2 separate regions of the Homo sapiens genome follow, and region 1 is linked to region 2. The links come from fine-mapping of genetic effects on gene expression. Tissue or cell type: whole blood. Region 2 holds a variant in brackets; the other region holds the start of a gene. All regions are shown on one strand. Distances are from middle to middle.

Region 1 (2,911 bases), 34 kb after region 2:
CTAGTTACAGGCACAAGATGTTCTAATAAATAACAAACACATCCAGAGCCAGTACACAAGTGTGACAGAATCTGGGGTCTAGGCATTTGATTTTTCTCCTGGTGCTGTCTGAGAATGGACACTGCCATTAAAGATTAATTACAGTAATCTGATAGTGATAAAGTTTAGCTAAATAACAGGCTAAACAATGAAATGGAAAAGGAAGCTGCAATATAGATCAATTAAACTATTTTTATATCTACTTTTAAAGAGAGACAGGGACATGATTATGCCATATAGAAAATAGATGAATATATATTCACGAGCTGAAAAAAAAAACAGGTAAATTATTTATTAGGTGAAGATAAATTCAAGCCATGAAGAGAAAACACATGGCCCAGAAAAAAAAAAAAGTAGGTTGTGCAAGTCAAATGAAAAGACACAAAACTCAGATCTCGGGGAGACAGGGGAAGGAGAAGGCTGAGCTAAAAGAGAGCCTTACTGAAAGAAAGCAAATAAGTGAGAGGGAGTCTGTGCCCTCTGAGATGGAATGAGGAAAAGATAAAAGTATTCATGGGCTCAAAGGCAGCTTCAGCAGTGAATATGGAAAAGGAATGAGCCCGTTCACTGTCTCAACACTAAAAGGGAAATAATATAGGGTCTTTTTCTAAACCAGCATCCATGGCAGTCAATAATAAAAGTGCCTAACTAATGCAAGGCATTTAATACGTGGAGGATTTTCTTACGATTGCATTCCATACATTAGTCCATTCACTCCCCGAAACACACCGAATAGGTGGATGCATCTAATTTACAGATGAAGAAACCGAGATCACACAATGGGAGATAGCACAGGCTGGTAAGAGAGACTGGGGCGCTCATCCACTTCGTTGTACTGTCTCTCAGCGAGATCCTAGGAAAACCCTTACACTTCTTTGTGAAGACAGACCTTGGCTTTCCAGATTTTCTCAAAGGAGTCTGGGCCCAAAAAGCGATCCTCTACTTCAGAGAAAAGTTCCTTTATGGGGCATATGAGGTTCTTCCAAGCACACAAAGCTTAGAAACTCTTTAAAAACAAACAAAACACCTGGTGGACACAGAGGCCTGTGAGTCATGAAAGGAGAAGGGAAAAATCGGAAAACCAGATTTAGAAGCCATCCTTCTTTGAAGAGAACGAGAAAGTAGAAAGCAGCCCTTCCCCTCTTCCACGAGGCGTGACTCAGGGACGTTACCTCCCCCGATTTGCTCTATGCACTAAGAGGGTGACCCTCCTCTGCTTTCGACTCTGGCCCAGACACTCACGGGTTACCCGGCCAGGCCTGGAGAACCCAGGTCTAAACAGATGGGACTCGTGGGGGAACAAGGGGGCCCCTGTGCGCAGGGAGGGAAACCTACCCAGGAACGCGCCCGGCCGGGTCCAAAGGCCCTCCGCGCGCGGGCCCGCGCCCTCGCCCCAGACCTTACCGCCTTCGGCTGCAGAAGAACTGGCGGCCAAGCGAGGCTGTCGGGCCGAGCCAGGAGCGCGTCTTCGGGCGCCGCCGCTTCTGTGGCGCCCGCGCTTAGGCGGCGGCCGGGTCCCGGTGGACTCACACCCGGGGAGACGCGGCCTGCCCGGTCAAGGCCCAGGAGTTTGAGGCCCCAGAACGCCAACCGTGCGCGCGCCCTCGAGCCTGCCCAAAGATGAAGGGTCAGGGCGCGCCCCGCGGGCCGGGCAGCTGCGGCAGCGCCGCAGCCGAGATCGCTACCGATTTCGTCCGCCCTCTCCCTGCCCAGCTACAGCCCCGCTTCCCCCGCGCGAGCTTTGGCGGCGGAGCAGCACAGTGCGCGCCGATTGGCCCTCAGAATGTGCGACGCCTGGCGCCGCTCCCCACGGATTGGCCGGGCCGGCAGTGCGTGCACGGAGTAAACAAACCCCGCCCCCAGGCTTCCCTTTGAGAGTAGGGGGCCAACAGATGGAGGGGCGGGACTCGTGCACTCAGCCACCGCCCCTTGGTTCCCCCTGTGGCCTCCCTGGGAGCCCTCCGCAGGACCCGACCACCCCGCTTCCCCGCCGCCTCCAGGGACAGCTGCGGGCCTGAGGCCTAGAATTTTAGACACACTTCCTTCATCACTCCTATCTCATCCCCCCTACTCCCACCCTGCGACTTGGGTGGGAATCTCTTTTCCAACTGACCCCGAAGCCAGAAAACCCCAGCTCTCTTGGAAGGAGGGGGACTGGGGCAGTTCCATTCGGTCCCCAGGCCTTTGCGGGGTCGCCCTGGGGGAGCATCAATAAGGGACAGGGGGGCGAGTGATCGTGATTGAGGCTATGCGTGGGGCCAACTGTGGGACACCTTGAAATTATTCAGACAATGAGTTAGAGACCACTGGGAATGTGGAGGTTCTTCAATATCAAGGCAAGTTAATACCCAAACCAGGACAGGTCATTCTGTCCCGCGGAAACTGCACACACCCCAAATACCCGTACACTTGGTTCCATATGAAAAGATTTTGTTCATTCGTTCGTGCCGAAGTTAAAAACCCCGTGTGAACAGCGCATTAAAACGATTAGATCTTTCTCATTTTACTCCAGTCAAATCTTATAGATCTTCTATATGCCACTTTGTTTGTTTTTGAGACGGGGTCTTGCTCTCACCGAGGCTGGAGTGCGGTGGCAGGATCACGGCTCATTGGAGCCCTGACTTCCCAGTCTCAGGTGATCCTACCACCACAGCCTCCCGAGTAGCTGGGACTACAGGCCCGCGCCACCACACCCGGCTGTTTCGCCATGTTTCCCAGGCTGGTTTGGAACTCCTGGACTCAAGAGATCCTCCCGCCTGGGCCTCCCAAAGTGGTGGGATTACAGGCGTGAGCCACCACGCCCGGCCCCAAACACTATTCTTGATATGGGGAGACATCAGTGGACAAAATAGAGACAAAAACTCCTGCCTTC
Region 2 (2,911 bases):
GAAAATTGAGTCAGCTTAAGTAACTTGCCCAAGGTCACAGAGAAGCAAAATGTATAATGAAGTTTAAATAAATGTTACTATATACATGTTCCATCATATCATAAAAAGACATGTCCTAAGCAGTTTTCATTTTAAAGTAATTTAAGGTTTTAAAAAATATAGGATATTTGTGTTATCTGTATGTATAAATGTTTAAGAATATAAAGTATTAAATAGTTTTAGATGACTAAAAAAAGCCTTATAGAAAAATAAACAATTGCCTTGTTTGCATACGCTCCTCATCCACTTTATTTTTTTCATGTACCATATATTGAAAATCCCTAACAATCACAACCCCCTATCAGACTCCACAGGATATGATGGAGATCGTGAAATTTTATACTAACTAAAGGTTAACTGCAAAAGCTGTCATCATTTTTCTCAATTTTCAAGCAGGATACAGGTTTTTTTTTTCTTTTTTTCCTACCTTCTTAAAAACACCTTTGGAAAGGGAAAGGAAAGTTGAATGATGTATGTGCTCACTACAAAATAATCCAAAGCTATAGAAGAGCACAAAGAAGAAAATAAAAATTACTCTAAATCTTACTATTGAAAGATAAGAACCTAATGATATTTGTACAGACACTTTCAGGTACATGTATATGCATAGATGTATATTTAAATGTAAAGGTATATATAGGAAAATGTACATAAGCAAGTCATATACATTATTCTGTTACTGCCAGTTTTCAAGATGTCCTATAAAGCCTTCCATAAAAAAATTCTTTCAATAAAAAAATTATATATGCTCATAAGAAAAAAAAACTCAACAGTGCAGAAGAAAATACAATACAAAGCAAGTCTTCCTTAATTCCTGCCCCTCCACTTCCACTACAATTCTAACTAGCAGATGAATACCATTAACAGAATTCACTGACATTTATATTTGTGTTCTTATATATATTCTTTTAAAAACATTTAAATTATAGATACATGAAAACATTCTGGTTATTAAAAAGTCCATACAGATAAAGAAAATCTCCGCATCTGAACACCTCAAATATCATTTCTAAACTTCATTGTTATCAGTTTGGTAAATATCCTTGCACAGAGCTCATTCCACGCATTTTCTTTTTTTTTTTTTTTTTTTCTGAGACAGAGTCCCGCTCTCTCGCTCAGGCTGGAGTGCAGTGGCGCGATCTCGGCTCACTGCAAGCTCCACCTCCCGGATTCACGCCATTCTCCTGCCTCAGCCTCCTGAGTAGCTGGGACTACAGGCGCCCACGACTGCACCTGGCTAATTTTTTGTATTTTTAGTAGAGACGGGGTTTCACCGTGTTAGCCAGGATGGTCTCGATCTCCTGACCTCGTGATCCGCCGGCCTCGGCCTCCCAAAGTACTGGGATTACAGGCGTGAGCCACCG[C/T]GCCCGGCCCATTCCATGCATTTTCATATAAGTACCTGCATGTAGAGAAATACACTTTTGTTGTTTTTAGTCTTTTTAAATTTTAGTCTTGTTCAATAGTATCATACTATGATGTTGTTTTTTTCATTTAACAATGATAGATTTACTATTGCTGTTAAATGTTACAATAGTGCTACCTTCTTGCAGTAACAGAACAGTTTTGTATCTTGATTGTGGTGGTGGCTATACGAATCTATACATCTAATAACATGTCACAGAACTATACACAAAGACACACCAAAAAATGGGCACATGCAAAAACTAGTGAAATCCAAGTAGGATCTGTAGTCCAGTCAATTATATTGTACCAATGTCAATTTCCTGATTTGGCCAATGTACTACAATTACATAAGATGTTACCACTTGGGGGAAGTTGGGCTACGGGTAAATGGGATTTCTCTGTATTCATTTTGCAACTTTTTTTTTTTTTTTCTTGAGACAGGGTCTTGCTCTGTCACCCAGGCTGGAATGCAGTGGTGCAATCACAGCTCATTGCAACTTCAAACTCCTGGGCTCAAGCAATCCTCCCGCCTTAACTCCCAAGTAGCTGGGTATACAGGCATATACCCTAACACTGGGCTAATTTTTAAAATTTTTGGTAGAGATAGAGTCTCACTATGTAGCCGAGGCTGGTCTTGAACTCCTGTCCTCAAGTGATCCTCCCAACTCAGCCTTCCAAAGTGCTGGGATCACAGGTGTGAGCCAGAGTCCAGCCACTGGTATTCTCTTAAGAGGAAAAAAGAAACAAGAGATGCAGACAGAGGGAAGAAGGCAGTTTCCTAGACAGAGGCAGAGATTGGAATTATGTGGCCACAGCCAAGGAATGCCCAGGGCTACCAGAAACTGGAAGAAGCAATAAAGGATCCTCTCCTAGAGGCTTTACAGGGAGCACGGCCCTGCTGACAAATTGATTGCAGACTTGCAGCATACAGAACTGTAGGAAATAAGTTTCTGTTGTTTTAAGCCACCCAGTTTGTGGCATTTTGTTATGGTGGTCCTAGGAAAGTAACACAATGGGTTTTGCACACTATTATAGTTACACCTAGGTATTTTATTTTTTGGTTTTGAGTTTTTTCTCTGTTTCCTTTTTGCTGTTGTTCCTGTAACTTATGGGGTTCTCCATTATATTTTCCTAGCTGTATGCATATAAGTTACGTTTTTCTTTTTACTAATTTTATATTCCATTACACAACTTAATTCTTTTACTGCTTAAAGTAATTTTACTGTAAGTTCAGTTGACTCTTGGATTTTTCAGGTGTAAAATTAGTCATCTGGAAAAGGATTTTTTTTTTGAGACAGAGTCTCGTTCTGTTGCCCAGGCTGGAGTGCGATGGTGTGATCTTGGCTCACTGCAACCTTAGCCTCACAAGCTCAAGCGATTCTCCTGCCTCAGCCTCCCAAGTAGCTGGGATTACAGGTGTGCACCACCACCCCTGGCTAATTTGGTATTTTTAGTAGAGACGAGGTTG

The links. PIP is the estimated chance that this variant, and not a neighbour inherited with it, causes the effect.
Region 1: it holds the start of TFDP2, and the variant in region 2 is the best candidate, but not a certain one, in a credible set for the expression of TFDP2 in whole blood (TOPMed, PIP 0.65).

The regions. Positions count from the first base shown.
Region 1 is chr3:142,147,740-142,150,650 of GRCh38, forward strand. It overlaps TFDP2 (transcription factor Dp-2), which reads right to left and starts at 1,805. Exons shown (of 13, transcript NM_001178139.2): 1 at 1,444-1,805. RefSeq lists silencers at 1,301-1,350, 1,581-1,650, 1,711-1,920, 2,031-2,080 and an enhancer at 1,450-1,950.
Region 2 is chr3:142,114,206-142,117,116 of GRCh38, forward strand. The region is part of intron 1 of TFDP2 (transcription factor Dp-2); the gene reads right to left. Among named protein-coding and RNA genes, the nearest start is that of TFDP2, 34 kb to the right of the region's middle. The variant C/T (reference allele first, on the strand shown) is at 1,404.